Regions from separate parts of the Homo sapiens genome. Here region 2 is linked to region 1. The links come from fine-mapping of genetic effects on gene expression. Tissue or cell type: blood mononuclear cells. Region 1 holds a variant in brackets; the other region holds the start of a gene. All regions are shown on one strand. Distances are between the middles of the regions.

Evidence for each region. PIP is the estimated chance that this variant, and not a neighbour inherited with it, causes the effect.
Region 2: LRP6 starts here. The variant in region 1 is fine-mapped to the expression of LRP6 in blood mononuclear cells (TOPMed, PIP above 0.99).

What each region holds. Positions count from the first base shown.
Region 1 is chr12:12,187,150-12,195,031 of GRCh38, reverse strand. All of the region lies in intron 3 of LRP6 (LDL receptor related protein 6), which reads left to right. Among named protein-coding and RNA genes, the nearest start is that of LRP6, 76 kb to the left of the region's middle. RefSeq lists a silencer at 3,783-4,077. The variant T/C (reference allele first, on the strand shown) is at 5,736.
Region 2 is chr12:12,263,686-12,269,903 of GRCh38, reverse strand. LRP6 (LDL receptor related protein 6) reads left to right here and starts at 2,860. Exons shown (of 23, transcript NM_002336.3): 1 at 2,860-3,223. The coding sequence starts at 3,169. RefSeq lists enhancers at 2,630-2,679, 2,217-2,853, 6,030-6,218 and a silencer at 2,860-3,169.

The sequences.
Region 1 (7,882 bases):
TCCTGTCATTCTCAGCAATATGGATAGACCTGGAGGATGTTATCTTAAGTGACATAGGACCAGGAACAGAAAATTAAACCATGCATGTTCTCACTCGTATGTGGAAGGTAAATGTTGATCTTGCAAAAGTAAAGAGTAGAATAGGGGATACTAGAGGCTGGGAAGGAAGAGATAAGAAGAGATTTGCTAAAAAATACAGAATTACAGTTAGAAAAAGCTTGAGTATTCTATACCACTGTAGGATGACTGTACTTAATAGGTAAAACATTATATAATTTCAAAGAGGATACTGAATGTTTCCAACACAGAAATGTTAAATGTTTGAGATTATGGATATGCTGATTACCCTGAGCTGATCACGGTACCTTATATATATTGCAACATTGCTGTGTACCCCACAAATATGTGTAATTATTATGTACCAGTTAAACATTTTTTAAAACAGAGACTTTAAAAGAAATAGCAAATGAAAATGGGGCTTAAGACTAAACTATTTTTCTGTGGATGCACACTTACAAAAAGCAATAAAACTATAAAGGCAAGAAAGTGACTAATAGAAAATCAGAATAATTGTTACTTCTATGGAGAGGGAGGGATTGGGACAGGGTTCATGCAGGGCCTTTTGAAGTCGTCTGGGTGATTCACCCAGATCAAGTTTTTTTCCTTCATCTGAGTGAATTCGTGGTTACAAGAGTGTTTGCCTTATAGTAACTTGTTAAGCTATATGTTTGTTTTGTATGTTTTTCTCTGTATTGGCTTTATTTTTTAAAAAAGATTAAAAATAGTCTTGAGCATGATATTACCTGTAGGTTTTTTTAATAAAGGGATTTTATCAGGTTGAGGAAGTTCCTTTCTATTCCTAGTTCATGGACAGATTTACCATGAATAATTACTGGATTTTGTCCGTTCCTTTTTCTGCATCTATGGAAATGATTATGTGGTTTTATTCTTTATTTTATGAACATGGTGAATTTCAGTAATTGGTTTTCAGTTGTTAAACCGATCTTGCATTTCTGGGGTAAGTTCTACTTGGTCGTGGTTTATACTTCTTTTGAAATGTTGTTAGATTTGGTTTGCTAATATTCTGTTGAGGATTTTTATGTCTTTAATAGTGAAGGATATTAATCCGTAGTCTGTTTTTCTTGTGTTTATTTGGTTTTGAGATTAGCATAATATCAGCCTCATAGAGTCGGAAGATATTTCCTCTTTCTTTGTTTTCTGGAAAAGTGTGTGACCAGTTGATACAACTTTTCCTGCCATCTGGGCATGGGGATTTCTTTTTGGGAAGATATTAATTACAAATTCAATTTCCTTGTTTGTTGTAGATCTATCAGATTTTCTGTTTCTTCTTGAGTCAGTTTTAGTAATTTGGTTTTTTTCCAGGAATATTTTTGTTTCATAAATTTGTCTAATTTGTTGGCATAAAGTTGTTTATGGTATTGCCTAATAATCCTTTTAATTTCTGTAAGGCAGTGTTTCTCTTTCATTCATCACTTTATTCACAGTTTTCACAATTTGCGTCTTTTTTTTTGGGTCAGTCTAGCACTAAAGGGTTGTCAATTTTGTGGGTCTTTTCAAAGAACAACCAGCTTCTGGTTTTATTGATTTTTCCCCCTTTATTGTTTTTCTGTTTTCTGTTTCATTGCCTTTTTTTTTTTTAACCCTAATGTTTTTATTTTCTTCCTTACACTTGCTTTGGATTTAATCTACTCTTCTTACAGTTTCTTAAGGTCAAATCATAAATAATTGATTTGTAATCTCTCTTCTTTTCTAGTATAGGCATTAGTATTCTATATACGTTTCCATATTTTGTATTTTCATTTTCTTTTAGCTCAAAATATTTAAAAACTTTTATTGTAATTTCTTCCTCGACTCATTGCTGATTTAGAGGAAATTGAGAAAGAAATTTCAAAAATTTAGAAAATAATTTGATTTCCCAAATTTTCTTCCGTTGATTTCTTCATGAATTTCATTATGGTCAGATAGTAGTCTATTTTATATGAGTTCAGTCTTTTTATTTTATATGAGTTCAGTCTTTTAAGATTAATTCTGTCTCCTAGCATGTGGTGTCCTGGAGAAAGTTCCACGTGTACGTGAAAAGATTGTGTATTCTTTTGTTGCATGGAATGTTCTATAGATAGTAGGTTAAGTTGGTTAATAATGTTCAAATTTTCTATATCCTTGGTAATTTTCTATCTAGTTGTTCTTTCCTTTAGTGAGAATAGGGTGTTGAGCTCTCCAACTATATTATTGAACTGCCCATTTTTCCTTTGATTTCTGTCAGGTTTTGCTTCATTTGTTCTGGGGCTCTGTTTTTAGGTACCTGTATGTTTCTAATTGTAACTTCCTGATGACTCTTTCTCATAAAACCTGCCACTGTATCTCTAGTTACCTTTTTATACTTAAAATCTTTTTTGTCTGATAGAGCTGCTCCAGCTCTCTTATGGTTACTGTCTACTGTAACCTTTTCTTTTCAATCTATTTGTATCTTTGAATGTAAAATGTGCTTTTATAAACAGCATATAGTGTAACCTTTGCTTTATTCAGTCTAACAGCCTTTGCCTTTTGATTGGTGTGTTTATTCACATTGAATGTCATTAATGATATGGTTGGGCTTATGTCTGACATTTTAGTGTTTTTTTTTTTTTAAATTATCTTATGTCATCTTTGTTCCTTTGTCCTTTGTATTAAGTAGATATTTTCTGGTGTGTCATTTTGATTCCTTGGTTGATAATTTTAAACTGTATTTTGGGGATTTTAAAGGTAATTATTTTAGGGATTGCAACGTGCATTTTGTCAAAATCTACTTTGTGGTAATATTAACTTAATTATGAAAAGTACATACATTTTACTCTAAGTATATCTCCATTCTCTCTCCCATCCTTTCTGCTATTATTGTCATTTATAGTTCATTTCTATTATATCTAACACAGGGTTATACTTATTGCTTTATACAATCTTATGTCTGTTAAAAAGGTTAAAGGAAAAAGAGAAAACATTATTTATAGAGTCTTTTTTATTAACCTGCATATTTACTATTTCTGGTATTCTTCATTTTTCCTGAGGGTTCAAGTTACCATCTGGAGTCATTTCCTTGTTCCAGTATAGTTCTGTTCTCTTCCTTGTCCTTTGTCCTTCAAATATTTTATTTTTTGAAAATATTTTTTTCTATTATGTAATATTTCTTCCTTTTCATTTTTTTCTTTATGTATTATGTTTATTCATTCTTATTTCGTAGACTTCATTTCTGAAATGATGTATTTTTGTATTTCTCATTCTTTCAAGTTCTGTCCCCTCACTTGTGAGTTGTCTGATTCTAATTTGTGTTGTTCATTTATGACTAGTATCTTACTTTAAATACTTTGACTGTTTTGAAATAAGTTATCAGTTTAATTTGTTCTATTTCTATATCTTTCTGGCATACTTTTTTATTGTCTGTAGGAATGTTATTCTTCACTTTATCCTTTTCTTATTTTTAATATTAACTTATTAATGGGATTTGATGTTAGTAATTTGTTTTCTTATTTTCAGGTGAAACTGTTTTGCTTGAACATTCAGAAGAAGGCAGAGTTCATAAGTTCTCCAGTTTCACAGAACTCTCATGTCTATGTATATGTGTTTAAAAAATAATGGCAGCTAGCTTTCTGGATTTCCTGGCTCTCCCACTTTACTTTTTCTGCTTTTTTCTGTACCTTATTTTCCCATTGTTCTCCTGTACCAATCATGCACACTTTTCAGTCCGCTCCCAGTGATTTCTCTTCAGTATGACGCTTTGTCTGGAAGGGAGCCCGGGAAGGACAATTTTGAGAGTTCACAATAGGTTAAAGTATAGTGCTAGACCTTTCAGTGCCTGACGATGAATTCATTGTATTCACTTACTCTTGAAGTGGCCAGAACACCTCATAGCTGGTTGCTGTTCTCAGATTGGTCTACTAAGCTTTCCAATGTTGTCTGTTTTATGTGTTCTGTCCTGCCAGATGTCCTATTGTTTCTTTCTCATATCCTGCAGAGGTGCCAATATCAGTCATATCTTAATGGCTGTTGGTAGTTTTCTCTACCATTTTGTATCTTGGGTTTTACCTAGCTTTGTTGTGAATGTTGTCCATGGGATTTGGGGTTCATTACCTAGTTGTTCTCTGTTTTCACATGGAGGATTCATGGAGATTTTTCCAAAGCTTTGCCATCACTGCTGACATTGTCTTCTTAGATATTATTACAGCTTCACTGTGGTGAAGGGAAGCTTCCTTCCAAGGTTAAGTTCAGATGTCAGAACTCATGACAGCAGTCCTGTGGTATGATTAAAGAAAGATTTATTACTCACACAAGTGGGCAGTTCTGAGAGAGGAGCAGAAGATGACTATCTGTGAGGAGGTCCAGAAACAAAAACTAAATGAGGGCATGCAGGTGTTTTATAAAGGATAAGTCCAGTTGGTGCAGAGTTTAAAAGAACCACTTGCAGAGTTCAAAGAATCTCAAAGAGCTAGCAAGAGGTGCCTGGGAGGTATTGGCAGTGGTGAGCTTTATCAGTAAGTTGCAGAATGTGACAGACATAGGCAGGAGATGATGCTCAGAGATTGCAAGCACTATATGAAAACTTCAGTGAGGTTGGGGGGAGTCTCTGTTTCTTTTCTGTGGTCCCCAGTTTGGTGATCCATTTTTTAGTTTCTGTTATCGTTGTGACCTACTATTGAGGAACTGGGCTTGGATCTTACCTGCCAGCTTGGTTCTTAGCAGCCATGATCAACTCCTCCTTGAAGTAACTTGTGTTTCCAGATGGGGATCAGGAGGTAGGCTTACTTGGTAATCTCAGCCAGAGAGAAGAAAGGGGAATACTCTGTGTGGTTATCCCTACTTTCAGGAACAAGTCATAGTTGGCTGGACAAATCATTATATCACCCTTGCATGATAGTGTTCTTAGTTCTGCCTTTTGTTCAGCTCTGTTAATTACATATTTTCTTAAAAACATTTAATTTTATCAAGCATCCCCAGAGTGTTTAGTAAGTCTGCCTAATTTGTACACCTTACCATTGTGTGGGATCCTTGGTATATAAATAAGCTAGAGTTTTACTCTCAAAAAGGTCATCTGTTATAGAGTTGCTGGATAGGTGAACAGTTATAAAACAGTTCACTAACTGTTATGAGAACGTAGAGAAAGAAAACTAACTTGGCTTGTGGCGGGAGGAAATTAAGAATGGCTATGAAAAGAAAGTGACATTTATATTTAGTGTTAAGGCCGGGCTCGGTGGCTCACGCCTGTAATCCCAGCATTTTAGGAGGCCAAGGTGGGCAGATCACCTGAGGTCAGGAGTTTGAGACCAGCCTGGTCAACATGGTGAAACCCCATCTCTACTAAAAATACAAAATTAGCCAGGCATGGTGGTGCATGCCTATAATCCCAGCTACTTGGGAGGCTGAGGCAGGAGAATTGCTTGAACCCTGGAGGCGGAGGTTGCAGTGAGCCAGGATCACACCACTGCACTCCATCCTGGGTGACAAGATCAAGACTTTGTCTCAAAAAAAAAATTAATATTAGTATAGTATTTACTGATTCTAATAAGCCATTGATTTTAAGAACTTACTGATTTTAAAAACTACCACATGAAATATTCACATTGTAAATGTTACCCTTATATCAGAAATGTTAAAATATTGAAAATATGTGTCTTAAAATTGAGGAATCATTAACGAAAGTGTTAAGTAGCAAGCGTAGTGCTGAATGGCTTTTGCGTATGTTA[T/C]TTAATCTTCACATTAACGCAGTGAGGATAGATTATTACCTTCCGTTGACAGATGAAGAAATAAAGCTTGCAGAAATGGTGTCAGTAATAAGTGTCAAGGGGGGATTTAAGCTCACCTCTGAGTTCTAAGTTTATGCATTCAATTAATATATAAAATGAATATAGCTTTTAGGGATTTTGCCTTTTCCATATGTTTATTTTCCTATGTTTAGTTCAGTAGAGTGAATTTCAACTTTTCACTTAATGATATACAAAACTTTTTGAAGCCTTTTTTTTCCTTGAGTTTTTCAAAGCAGTTCTTTAAGATGGTGAAATGCCAAGTAACTTAGTTTTAACTACTCTTTATTTTTCATTTGTGTTACTTGTCTTTTTTGGCAGCTTTCTCAGTTCTCTCTCTGTTTCCACCATGAATTTTGGAAGACTTTAGTGTGAAATATACAGGCCTGTTTAAAATTGAACATAAACTGTGCCATCACCCTGTAAATAATATAGTCTCTTTAGTAAATTTAATAAAACTGTCCATTTAAAAAGTGGAAGAAAGCACTTCAGGAGAAGGTATTGTGACAGTTCTCTTTGGGAAATTAGAAGGAATAGTGAGCTTTTTACTTAGGGAAGAGAGGATTAAGGAAAATGAGAAAACTGGTGATATGGGTTGGCAGTGCAGGTATTTTGTCTGAATTTATAATGCTTTAGACTAAGATCATTCCATGTGCAATCACAGACGGTAATCCTGCTTACACGTAAAAATGACCTTAATTGCTTTTAATTTAATATGCTGGTAGTCTGTTAGATAGTAGAAATCATCAGTTAACCTCAAGGACCTGAAAATTGAATCATCTTCCTTAAAATATATGATACTTTTAATTTCTCTTCAGTAGCTTATGCTTTCCCTTCCCTTTTCCCTTCATTTTTCTTTCCCTTCCTCCCTCTCTGCCCATCTCTGCCTCCTGGGTGGGCTATTGGGAAACTTGGATTTATGAAAATATCAAAACATGTATTTTCTTGAATATTATTTTGACTCAAAACGTGATTTGTTCATTATTCCAGAGCATTTGCTTATTCTTTTTTTTTTCTTTTTTTTTTTTTTGAGATGAGTCTCGCTCTGTCGCCCAGGCTGGAGTGCAGTGGCGCGATCTCGGCTCACTGCAACCTCCGCCTCCTGGATTCAAGCAGTTCTCTGCCTCAGCCTTCCGAGTGTCTGGGATTACAGGCGCCCACCACCACGCCTGGCTAATTTTTTTGTATTTTTAGTAGAGATGGGGTTTTACCATCTTGGCCAGGCTGGTCTTGAACTCCTGACCTTGTGATCCACCCACCTCGGCCTCCCAAAGTGCTGGGATTACAGACGTGAGCCACTGCGCCCGGCCCTCAGCATTTGCTTATTCTATAACTCTCTCTAATACTCTACAAAGTTCTGTGCCTTAAGTACTAACTAGGCTGTCTACTTTTCCTTTTAAAAAGTATGTATTGCTTGTGAAAATTTTGGATCTGCTTTGTCTCATGAACATATTCTACCACTAACAGGACTTCTTTTTGGCTGCCTGAATATAGTGAAAAGTCAGCTAAGATGATCACTTGCTGGAGCTAGACTGGGGTTTGCGGGGAGAGTGCTACCTGCATGCCATTTTGGCCTCATGTTTATGTTTCATTCTCAGTTATCAAAACCATAAGAAGTGATGGACAAAACAGGCTCAGGTTCTTTGTTCTTCCACATCAAGAAGGAAAAAACCTATTGCTGATATAAATCTACTTCAGTGCCAACTGTAACCCCTGTGATTTTTCTCATTGCTTACCTTTCTCTGTCTGATGACATGAATTGTGTGAAAGGGTGGAAGCTGTGAGTCCAGAGATGGTAGTTGAAGAGTAGGATTTGACAGCAGTGCAAACAATGAAAAAGCAGTGCTCTCTCTCTGCCGGGTATCTTGTACTGAACTTGAGGCTGCTGCCAAGTTAGGGACTATTCCCAAATGCTTGTTTGGGGCTTTTGGACACCTTAAAAATATATATGAATTCATTATGTGAATTATTTTTTATAGGTGTATTTGACCTATTGGTATGTATTACTCAAGATTTGTATGTGTTAATGTGAACTAAGATCATTTTAATGGGAGAGGTGACGTTATGATAGAAGAAGAAAATTTAGAAAT
Region 2 (6,218 bases), 76 kb before region 1:
ACTACATCTCATATTATTTCACCATCCTAATGCCTATTTTAGTGCACTTACTTTTGGTCTTTGCTCAAATATGTGCTATATATATGTGTGTGCATTTATGTTTGTATATTATATATATTTTTATTTTACATAGCTATAATCAAATGTACATGCACTTTCACTTTTTAAAAGCTTAACTCGGCCGGGCGCGGTGGCTTACGCCTGTAATCCCAGCCCTTTGGGAGGCCAAGGAGAGCGGATCACTTGAGGTCGGTAGTTCGAGACCAGCCTGACCAACATGGAGAAAGCCCGTCTCTACTAAAGATACAAAATTAGCTGGGTGTGGTGGCGCATGCCTGTAATCCCAGCTACTCAGGAGGATGAGGCAGGACAATCACTTGAACCTGGGAGGAGGAAGTTGTGGTGAGCCGGGATTGTGCCATTTTACTCCAGTCCAGGCAGCAAGAGCACAACTCCGTCTCAAAAAAAAAAAAAAAAAAAAAAAAAGCTTAACTCACTATAAACATTCAACACTGTTGCATAATCCTCTAAATTATTATTTTTCAGCAGTGTGTAATATCTCATTCCCCTACTTAGGTTGATAGTCTGAGGAGATTTAGGTTGTACCGCATTTTCTTTTTTATTTTATTTTATTTTTTTCGAGACGGAGTCTCGCTCTTTCGCCCAGGCTGGACTGCAGTGGCGCTATCTAGGCTCACTGCAAGCTCCGCCTCCCGGGTTCACGCCATTCTCCTGCTTCAGCCTCCTGAGTAGCTGGGATTACAGGCGCCCGCCACCGCGCCCGGCTAATTTTTTGTATTTTTAGTAGAGACGGGGTTTCACCGTGTTAGCCAAGATGGTCTCGATCTCCTGACCTCGTGATCCGCCTGCCTCGGCCTCCCAAAGTGCTGGGATTACAGCCGTGAGCCACCGTGCCCGGCCAGTTGTACCGCATTTTCTATTATAAATAGGGACAGATCCAGGCTTTGTGGGACTTGAAGCTTATACAATTTTGTATAATACAATTATACAGAAGAGGAATTCAAAATTATCTTTGTTTTGCAAATAGGACCATGTGAACATACCATAAAGGCCCCTCCCCAGACATTGGAAGGGGCCTGTGAAAGTGAAGGTTAACTTTCTTTTCTTTTTTTTTTTTTTTCTGAGACGCAATCTTGCTCTGTTGCCCAGGCTGGAGTGTAATGACGCGATATCGGCTCACTGCAACCTGCGCCTCCTGGATTCAAGCCATTCTCCTGCCTCTGCCTCCTGAGCAGCTGGGATGACAGGCGTGTGCCACCATGCCCGGCTAATTTTTTTTGTATTTTTAGTAGAGACGGGGGTTTCACCATGTTGGACCAGGCTGGTCTCGAACTCCTGACCTCGTGATCTGTCCGCCTCGGCCTCCCAAAGTGCTGGGATTACAGGCCTGAGCCACCCGCCCCCGGCCCAGTTTCCTGCTTTGAGGAAGCCAGAATACAAAACTCACTTGGTTCTTAGAAGCAGGTCATTTAAATAAACGGTGACTAGACCTCAGGTGAATTTGGGAGAAAGTGATTTGGCTGTTTCTGCTGTCCATCTACTTACAAACCTGCAGCACCTTTGGTTCAGCGCGCATTTCTTGGAAGGAGCGGAGTGGCTTAAGTCAGAGACCTGGATTGGGCTGAGGTACTGCTATTCATTACTTGAGTGGCCCTGGGTAAGTCATTAACCTCTCAGGTTCTCATTTTGCTCCTCTGTGCAATAAAGAATAAGTAACAAAACCTGCCTTTCCCCAGGGTAGTTTTGAGTGTCAAATATGATAACTTGTGTTCAAGCACTAGTGAACTCCAATGTCACTGAGGTACTTGTTAACATTGTGGTAGCAGCTCCACTTTCTTGCCCATCTGCCTCCAGGTAAGGGCGTGTGACAGCTGGGCAGGATGCATCTGATGGCTCCATTAGGGTTAACTGTTGGAGCGCCTCTGCCCAGACGAAAGCCTGGCAGGTGATTTCAGGGGGCGTCTGGGCCATTACTCCTGAATGCCCAATGCACTGGGAGTAGCAGAGGCTGTGCACAGTCTGAGATTCTAGGGAATCTTTTCCTTCTCAAGCTGAGAATTGATAATCGAAGCATGCCAAACATTCGTTATTATATGCAACTTGTAAAATCCTAAATAGTCTTGTCCAATTGTCCCTTTGCTCTTAGGTTTTGAGGCATTTATCTTGGAATTTTATCTGCCAGTTTAGAAATCTTTAGCTGGTCGGGCTTAATTCTGGGGGCAGTTTGTATTTCTGGGAAGGCGGGAGAAAAATGACAATCTCAGTTTTGAATTGGCGTTTTAATATCGTTCACCAGATCCACGCTGAAAGCCGGTGTAAACAGCGTTCAAAAATTCCGCCCTCCCAAAAAAAGGATGCTGAAACCGATTTCCAACCCCGAAGACGGAGCTCATCACCCCGCAACGGGATCCGCCGTGGCTCCCCGCGCGTGCACCGCGGCTGGGCAGTCTCAGGTGGCTGGGGGCGCGAGACCGGAGCCCCACCTGGCCCTGCCGGCGGCGGCCGCACAAAGAGCGGGGCAGACGGCTGCCCGGCCGAGCCGCAGAAAGTAGTCCCGACCACGCCGGCTCCAATGTTGTTCAACGCCGCCTCACGCCCTCCGCGGGGAGGGCCGAAGCGGCCGGTCCGGGAAAGAATCCCGCTGGAATGCGCCACCGGGAGGAGGCTTTCCCTCCCAGTTCGCCTCTGCTAGCCCAGAACCTCTCCCAGGGTCTCAGGCAGAGGCTGTGCGTGCGGTTGCCGACTCCCTTCCCTGGCCGTACAGGAGGCAGTACCGGGAGAAGGGGCTCGTTGCGCGCAGGGACACGGTCGCGGCGACCCTAGGAGGCGGTGCCGACCGTATCCCTGCGCCGCTGCGCGAGGCAGAGGCTGAATGAGGAGCTGCGCGGGGGAAGCGGGGCGCCGGGGGAGGAGGCGGCGGGATGGAAGCAGACGCTGGCGTCGCGCGAGCCCGGGGCCGAGCGGCGCGGTAGAGAGGGCGGCGGCGGCGCGCGCGGAACCTTGACGTGCCCCTTTCTTTCTTCTCTCGCTGGGAAGCTGGGAAGTATGAGCGTGCAGCCCTGCCGCTGCGGCGGCCGCCCCGGCTCCTCGCCTCCCCCACTTCTGGCCACCCCTCGCCGGTGAGAGAAGAGAACGCGAGAAGGGAAGATGGGGGCCGTCCTGAGGAGCCTCCTGGCCTGCAGCTTCTGTGTGCTCCTGAGAGGTGGGAAGAGTGGGGGCACTGGAAAGTTGGTGGGGTTCGGGGGGAGGTGGCCTTGTTGTATGTGTCTAGGGGGAGGGGAGGGACGGAGGAAGGGAGAAGGGGAGAGGAGCGGGGAGAGGCCTGGTCGTGGGGAGGGGGAGAGAAAGGGGCCCGGGAGCAGGGGCTGCGTGCACCGCCCGGCCACAATGCGGACCTGGCCTGGCTTCCCAGACCTTCCCCGGACACATCGGAGCTTCGATCCCGGCTGCTGGTCTTAGGGAACCCTTGGCACCCCATGCTGTCGGGATGACTGAGTGTCTGTGTGCCTCTCTCTGCCTGGGGTCTTCCAGGGAAAAGGGTCTTTGTACGTATTTTGGCTTTTAAAATGTTTGAGTCCGAGATGCTTTAAGGTTGGCCTTATCCATCGAAGCCCCGCCACCCACTCCCCACCCCGTTTCGGTGTTTCTTAGGTGAACTTTTAAAGCCCTCTTGCTATTTTTTCCAGGCCTTGTTACAGGTAATGATTGGCTTCCGTTTGGGATATAATGACCCTGGGTGAGAGCGCAGTTGGAAAGTGACTCCGGGGTTATAGGTCGAGCGTTTCAGCATTGGGAGCCTTCTGAGCTTCAGCCCATAATAAAATAAAACATTGCCCTTGTAACCTCTGGTATTCACGGCTTGCCCCTATTTTCGGAGTATGCAAGTGTACAGTTGGCACTAAGTAGGGAAATTCATCCTCGTGTGAAGAGGAGCCGGTCCTGGGACCAAAATGATAATTTGCTCTGCACCCCTGGGGACTGCTTGGCACTTTGGTAAATTGCATAGGCTGTTCGAGATAATTTGCTCTGGGAATCGCTTGAATTCGATGGCACTATGATGTTTTGAATTGGACTGCAAAGCTGACACATGCTCTGTGACTTTTGTGACAGTTCACAAAGATTTTTGACTGGCCCGTCGGCAGCTCTTCTCAAACTATTTAGTGTTGAACTTGAGATGGCTGTGATGGCTGTGGAGCATTTACCAGCAGAGGAATTTAAGTACTGCTCGATACGGTGGCTTGTAGTTTTGGTTTGGTAAAGTTCTTACTGGCGTTCATAGTAAGTTCTTTTCAGGCATGTGACCGCTGGTCGCTGGAGATTTTTAGGTGTTAACAAGCTAAACTTTTGTTAAGTTCTCCAAACTAATTTAAGTTTACAGAACACTAATAGTAACTAATAGTCTGTGACAGGTGTATATTTTTGCGTGTACTGTGTATATGTATTTCGGATGAGAATGATTGAGTTTTTTTTTGGAGGAGGAGAAATACTTTCTTCAGTTACTCTGTAGTAATGCAGCATTGTGTTTGCATGTTATATTACTTGATACTCTAAGCATATTACAAAGTTTTCCCACATGTAAACCCCGGAAAGGTAGTGTTCATTAGATTTTTGTGGCAGAAATTTTAATGAAGTGTTACGTACTGGAGAGGTTTCATAAGTATATACTTATTTTATTATTGGCATACTCTATTGAAAGGGGTTTTGCTGTAGCTGTTAGAAACAACTATATTTGACATAAGAATATGTATGTATTTTAAGACATAAGGTTAATAGGGCTGACAAATATGAGAACCAGCTGATTGGTTAGAGTCGTGGGAAAACTTATAACTTGGGATGTTTCTGGTTGTCTAGTTGTATTTCTTGGAGGAGAAGCGTGTGATGTAAATGCCGTTTGTTTAACACCAGCTTTGAGACCAGAGCTGGGTTTGTTCATTATTGGAATTTAGATAGGTTGCACTTATTTATGTAACAAGACCTGGAAGAGGTAATAGTTTAAATTGTCTCGTTTCCACTAGCAAAGTTTTCAGAAGTGGAGCTCTCGTTTTAAATGTGGCGAAATATGGTGTAAGGTGGTCTTCTAATATGTAACAGTACTGTACTTAGCTGTGAGTACATATTATTTGAAGTAAAACTGTCTTTTGATGTAAAATATTTTTGTTCATAATTTAGAATTAATTCATTCTTTGAGAATGTCATCCTCTGTTATAGTAAAGATATTTAGTCAACCTTGGACTCCAAGGAGAAAAATCTGATTGATTTGTTGCATTTAGGTCATTTTTTTCCCCCACAAAGAATTGGGGCTTTAACATTGGCTGGGTGTGATGGGGTATGTGAGAGTCTGGGAGACCTTCTGTCCTGTAGCCCTGTTGAATTAGTAGCAGAAAGCCAGGGAATACTGTTAGTGCTGTGTCCCTATCTCTATCATCACATGACAAGGTATAAAGGAAAGATTTGGGAATTTCAATACTAAAATCTTGGATTTAAAGCCCAAGTGTCACAACTTCATAACTTTGTGGTTCTGGTCTAGTCCGCTTCTCTAGGTCTCAGTTTCTTTACTGGTAGTGTGGATAATGATACCTGACTAGTTTGCAGGGTTATTGGGTGTTTTAAATGAAATAATATGGAGTACCTTGTTAATGTTACTTTTTGCTATAATTTTTGCTTGTTCAGGGACATATCCTCAAATGCTTTCATGATTTGAGATTTAATTTGTATAACGTTCACAATTTTTTTTTTTTTAAAGAGACAAAGTCTTGCTTCATCACTCAGTCTGGGGTGCAGTGGTGTAATCACAGCTCATTGCAGTCTCAAAGTCTTGGGCTTAAGTGATCCTCCTGCTTCATCCTCCCAAAGCTCTGAACTATAGGCACGTGCCACTATGCCCCCAATTTTTTGTAGATATGGGGTTGGTGTGGGGGTGTCTTGATATGTTGCCCAGGCTGGTCTCCAACTCCTGGCCTCAAGTGATCCTCTCAAAGTGCTGGGATTACAGGTTACAGGTGTGAGCCACCATGCTTGGCCAGGTTCACGAATTCCTATTTTTTTTTTGGAGGTAGGGTCTTGCTCTGTTGCCTAGGCTGGAGTGCAGTGGCATGATCGCTGCTCACTGCAGCCTGGACCTCCTGTGTTCATGTGATCTTCCCACCTCAGCCTCCCAAGTAGCTGGGACCACAGTTGTGTGCCATAACACTTGGCTA